Linked DNA regions of Homo sapiens: region 1 is linked to region 2. The links come from fine-mapping of genetic effects on plasma protein levels. Region 2 holds a variant in brackets. A gene starts in the other region. All regions are shown on their reverse strands. Region 1 holds the start of CD207 (CD207 molecule). Region 2 overlaps CPVL (carboxypeptidase vitellogenic like).

Evidence for each region. PIP is the posterior inclusion probability: the model's chance that the variant is causal. Protein levels are from antibody-based Olink assays in UK Biobank. Linkage for the fine-mapping came from a reference panel and not from the study's own genotypes, which makes the PIPs less certain.
Region 1: it holds the start of CD207, and the variant in region 2 is fine-mapped to the plasma level of the CD207 protein (UK Biobank, PIP above 0.99).

The regions. Positions count from the first base shown.
Region 1 is chr2:70,834,642-70,837,552 of GRCh38, reverse strand. It overlaps CD207 (CD207 molecule), which reads left to right and starts at 1,737. Exons shown (of 6, transcript NM_015717.5): 1 at 1,737-1,849; 2 at 1,946-2,062. The coding sequence starts at 1,777.
Region 2 is chr7:29,091,598-29,094,508 of GRCh38, reverse strand. It overlaps CPVL (carboxypeptidase vitellogenic like), which reads left to right. Exons shown (of 13, transcript NM_031311.5): 6 at 1,807-1,886. Among named protein-coding and RNA genes, the nearest start is that of CPVL-AS1, 13 kb to the right of the region's middle. The variant T/C (reference allele first, on the strand shown) is at 1,846.

The DNA of each region.
Region 1 (2,911 bases), not on the chromosome of region 2:
ACAATGAGCTGCACATAGGCATGGGCTGAGCGTGCAGCCACTATCCTCCCAAGTACCAAAGGTGGCAGTAGCCCCTGAAAGCATAGGTAGATATTTCCTTGGCCCTGTTAACTTAACCTCTAATCCTGGTCCCTGATACAGGCTGTCATCCAGCTCCACTGGCTCAGCCTCAGCAGGCCCAGGACAGCTTTCTTTTCCTGCGGCCAGAGCTTTTGTTCATTCCTGGGTAAGGAGTAAATCACACTTCCCCTTATGCTTTTGCATTGAAGATGAATGAGAACTTCTGGAGACAGTGGAAAAAAGCAGCAGCTTCTAGAAGGCAGATCCCAGGCCCCAGACTGTGTAAATGTCTGAGTGGCATGATCAGCTATCAAGTCTCCAAGTCACTTACCATTCACACATCCATCCATGCATCCTCTATCCATCCATTCATCCATTCACCCATCCTCCAATTATCTGGACCAATTTCCTTCTTTTTTCTTTCCTTCCCTCCCTCTTTCCTCTCCTCTTTCCTATATTCCAAGAAATATTTGTCTAGAGTCTGCCATGTGCCAAATTTCTCAGATTTGGCAGACTTCTTCAAAGCATGAGAAGCCGCCCAGGAGAAAATTTAGTCCTTCATTGAGCCCAAATCAGCTCTTCTGTGCCCTGAGCTTCTTGCACATATGGAACTCTCTATTTAGGACTACAAAGAAGGAGAGAGGAGGTGCGGACAGAGAGAGAGGAGAGAGAAACAGAACGATTCCTAGTCTGAGGTTGCTGAGCGCCCCTACTTTTTTTGAAAATCTCACATGGTGCAGGAAGCAGGGAGGAGAACCCAAGTCTTAGGTTTACACTTTGAATCTCCAAGTTGCATATTATAAAGGGATATTGTATCAGCCAAGATGCATTAATAACAGGAAGCAGGATATTCTATTGCAATGGTTGCCTATTTGGTATCTCTGCTTCCAGGCTTCTCCCCACCAGTCTGCTCCTCACCAGGATCAGAGTGATGTTTCTACAGTGTCCCTGTCCTTGTCTCTCTCCTGCCTGAAGTCCTTAATTGGCCCCATGTCACCCACAAGCCAGAGGTCCAGCTCCTTGACATGATCAGAAGGATCTTCATCATCAGACCCCAGGTGCCTCTTCAACCCCGTGTGCATCCCCTTCCTGTTGGAATGTATATTTTACATTCCAGCAATATTGCAACTATTTACAATTTGCCAAGCACTCCATGCTATCTTATGCTCCATCCTTTGGCATATGCTTATCTTTCTACTGGATTTTTTTTTTTCCCATTACTCCATTTCATATGCTTCTTTGAACTGGGCATATTTGTCTCTTGTGCTCATCACCTTGCAATTTATTTGCTCATGTCTGTCTTTCCTACCAGACTATGAGCTGCTTGGTGCAAGGACTGCGAGTTATTCATCACTGTGGCCCTATGCCTGGTAGAGCATCAGTACCTAGAAGGCACTCAGCCTGTATTTGTGGGGTGAATGGATGGGTGGATGGATGACGAGAGTCTTACAAGAGAAATGGGATAGGTTTGGGACAAGATGGTTAATGTATCCATGTAACAGACCCCCAGAGAAGACAACAAATGGCCTCTTCCTGAAAGCTCAGACTTCTGAGGATGGGAGTAAGCCAGACAAGGTATCTAGTCAGGAATAGGGAAGTTGGGATGATATGGTGACCTGCTGTGGGACTGACTTCCTGTTTCCTCTAGATAAGAGCCCTTGGAGAGACAGGCAGCCAGAAGCACCTGTGCTCCCAGGATAAGGGTGAGCACTCAGGATGACTGTGGAGAAGGAGGCCCCTGATGCGCACTTCACTGTGGACAAACAGAACATCTCCCTCTGGCCCCGAGGCAAGCCACATCGCTGCTGAGAACCTGCTCCGTGTTCTGTGTGCAAACCTGCCCTTTGCTGCTCCTTCAACACACATTTTCTTCTTCTTCCAACAGAGCCTCCTCCCAAGTCCGGTCCATCTCTGGTCCCGGGGAAAACACCCACAGTCCGTGCTGCATTAATCTGCCTGACGCTGGTCCTGGTCGCCTCCGTCCTGCTGCAGGCCGTCCTTTGTAAGTCCTCATGTTTCATCGTCTGGGCTTAGCCCCTCTCTGTGGCCAGCCGGCTCCCTTCAGATCGAGACCACTTCCCTGCTCTCCGGGTTTCTCCTGCCTGTGGCTTTTTCATTTGTCTCCTTCCTCCTCTTTCCATGTGCAGTAACAGGCTGTGCTGCCCCCAGTACGGTGAGCTGATGCTCTTTCCCTCCCAATTTCTGGGAGATTATTGGGATTAGCATTTGCACATTGGTGCTCAAGGATACATTCTTTTGTCCTCAGGAAACATTGATCTAGTTTTACATCCTGTGCTATTTTCTCCCCGTCCACCCCCCACCAATCTGAGCTCTGCTCCTTGGATCTAGAGCCTTGTGGACAGTCCTTGACAGTGCAATGTCTCCTGACCCTGTGAAGGACCGAGCCTCATGTATCATTGGCCCCAGCTCACCAGATGGAGAGCCTGGCCAACGAGCCAACAGATCTCCATGACTCAGTCCCCTCTCCCCAGGACTCGTTGGTGCTGTCTTCATTCTCCTGTCCCTGTGAAGATCACATCTAGGGAGGCTTCCTGCTCATTTGATGTTGCATGGTTTATCTTTCTTCCTTTTCTGGCTCTGTCAGGCTTCATGGCCTTTGCTGCTGGCAGAGCCTTCTTCCTCCTGCCAGGGCTCCAGGAAGCAGAGCAAAGGGACCCAAGAAGCTGTTGGGTTTTTTTTTCTCCCTCTGTGGCCTCGGGACATATTTGGGCTTAGACTTGTAGGCTCTGAGCAGAGTCCCCCTTGCCCCATCCTAGACCCCTGGCCTCTAACATCGCATTTTCCTCAGGGCTCGCCTTTGAGCCTCTTGGTTTATCTTTGATCCTCTCTC
Region 2 (2,911 bases):
GAGGAGGAATTCATTTCTTTTCACTAACAGTTTGGGTTCCTTATATCACAGGTTATTATATAGTGTCAGAACTTGTAATCTTTCACAATCGTCTAATCTTTCACATAGAGTTATAGATATAAAAAGTCAAAATGGGTCTCCACTTTTTTTTTTTAATTTTTATTTTTTTGAGATGAATCTCACTCTGTCACCCAGACTGGAGTGCAGTTGCACCATCTCAGCTCACTGCAACCTCCACTTCCCAGGTTGAAGCAATTCTCCTGCCTCAGCCTCCTGAATAGCTGGGATTACAGACTTGCGCCACCATGCCTGGCTAACTTTTGTATTTTTAGTAGAGATGGGATTTCACCATGTTGGCCAGGCTGGTCTTGAACTCCTGACCTCAAGTGATCCGCCCACCTCAGCCTCCCAAAGTGCTGGGATTATAGGCATGAGCTACTGCTCTTGGCCTCCTTCACTTGTTAAGACAAGCAACATGCTTCATCTCTGGACAAAAAGTGATACTCTCCTTGGGGAGGTCTTCTGATATTGGTTCTATTAAGGTGCAAAATAGGAGAGAAACTTAGGGTCAGCTTCTACAGATTTGGAGTATCTTTGCCCTCTTAACTAAAATCTTTAACTTCTCTCACTTTTCAGATGGTCCAAAAGAACACAAATAAAAGCGGAAAAAAATGTCAACATGCTCTTTCCCCCACCTTGTTTTGTCAGCCTTCCATTTTCCTCATCCATAACTGTGTATTTAAGTAAAAGATGAATTAAACATCCTTGGGTGTTTGGAAAACAAAAACACAAAAATCTTTATACCAGATAGGGAGTGCATTCCTTATGCAAATTGTTGACATAAAAATAGTAGCTTCTTCTTTTGAATTTGCAGTTCAGTTTCTTTTGAATTTGCAGTTCAGTTGTCTGTGAACTTCTAGGTTCTAATAAGAAAATATTAGTTTAAAATTAGTCTTAATTATGTTAAAACTCCTTACCTACTGAAGATGAAATGGCTTAATGGCCATATTTCTTGCAAATAAAGACAAGAAGGGGGAGGAGGAGGAGGAAGAAGAAGAAGAGGAAGACAATGTACAACTACCTTTTTCTTCAGCCTAAAGAGTTTCTTTCTTTTTTTTTTTTTTTTTTTTTGGAGACGGAGTCTCGCTTGGTCACCCAGGCTGGAATGCAGTGGCATGATCTCAGCTCACTGCAATCTCCGCCTCCTGGGCTCAGGTGATTCTTATGCCTCAGCCTCCTGAGTAGCTGGGATTACAGGTGCCCGCCATCATGCCCGGCTAATTTTCGTATTTTTAGTAGAAACGGGGTTTCGCCAGGCTGGTCTCAAACTCCTGACCTCAGGTGTTCCGCCCGCCTCAGCCTCCCAAAGTGCTGGGATTACAGAAGTGAGCCACTGCGCCAACCAAGAGTTTCTTCTTGGCAGGACAGAGCCATGCACTCTCCAGGTTTCAGAGAGGAGACAACTTTGGATCTTTTGATACTGTAGCAGGGGATGGAAAAGATGAATCCTTCTTCCTTAAATCAACATCTGGCAGGGTCTCCACTGAGGCACAGGACAGCTCAGCCACTGACCCCAGGGCAAAGCTCTGTGTTGCTGTTTTATTTGGGCTTTAGGGGGTGGAGAGAATAGGTGGCACCTAGCATCCTCCTGGGAGGAGGGCTAAAGGCATAGGGGGGCAACGGCAAAAATCTGAAGTCTGAGCTTGGCCTTTGGAACAAGGTCACCTTCCAGTGTGGGACCTCTCTGCAGGTCCCTAAGGCATGTGTTTCTCTGTGTTTATACCTGCGTGTTTATTTCTCCTGCAGGTGGGCACAGGCTTCAGTTTTACTGATGATACCCACGGA[T/C]ATGCAGTCAATGAGGACGATGTAGCACGGGATTTATACAGGTAAAATGCTCCTGCTTTCTCTTGGCTTTCCTAAGACCAAACATTTTTCTATCTCAATAGGAAAATTATTCTAGTGTTGGAATTTTTATTGACTGAGCCTTATAGTCCAATTCCTGAAGATAATTTAAGGATATTTTCACATCCACACACACAGAGCAGAATTTTTCAATTAAAGATTATTTTTTAAACCTTTCAACCAGACATCTGAAAGGTTTCTACTTGTTTTCCAAATTTGTATTTAACTTTGCATTTGCAGGGAGACAACATCTTTTCAGATATTTGTTTGTTTCTCAGGATTCTTCTTTTCGTGGCTTTTGGATGCAATTTTTTACTTTTTGCTTCTATTTCATGACTTTTCCAGGCTGAAAACTTAGCTTGTTAGTCTCTAGTATTCTCTCTTCTTCTTATGAAAGTTTTGTTTTGCTTAAAAAAAAAAAAAAAAGGAAAAATGTAAAGTTGTAAGTCTGGCCAAACAGTGTCCATATAATTTCTCCCTTTTTTCACTCATATTAATCATTGCTATTTTTAGCATTTTTAAAAAAAAGCAAGTGACCTTTCTTATTTGGTCAGATTTTTCCAGTCTACAAATTATTACTAGAGACCAAGTCCTAGATTCTTTCTGGTCACTAGGGCACCGCTTTATGTATTATAATAATTTACTAAAAGAACCCTAGTGGCCAGAAGGAGTTAACTAGCTCCCTACCCCACACCTCCACCAAGCACTCTGTTAATTACTACCAATCCTCAAAGCGAAAGTGCATCTAATAGGAGTCAGAGTTTGCTGATCTCTGACAAAAGCTTTCCGTTTTACTTTTCTTTCTCTCTGAGGCAGATAGGTGGCCGGGGGGAGAGAAGAAAGAACTACTTCCAAGCCCCTTTCCCAAAGATCTCTCCCTCTGCCCACCCAGAAAAGAATATGGCTGTTGTCTTCTCCACTTTTGTTTGTTTTTCACATGTTCCATGATTCGATCACTTCTATTCAGTTTCTAGGGGGATGCCCAGGGCCCCACACTTCTGCTTCCACA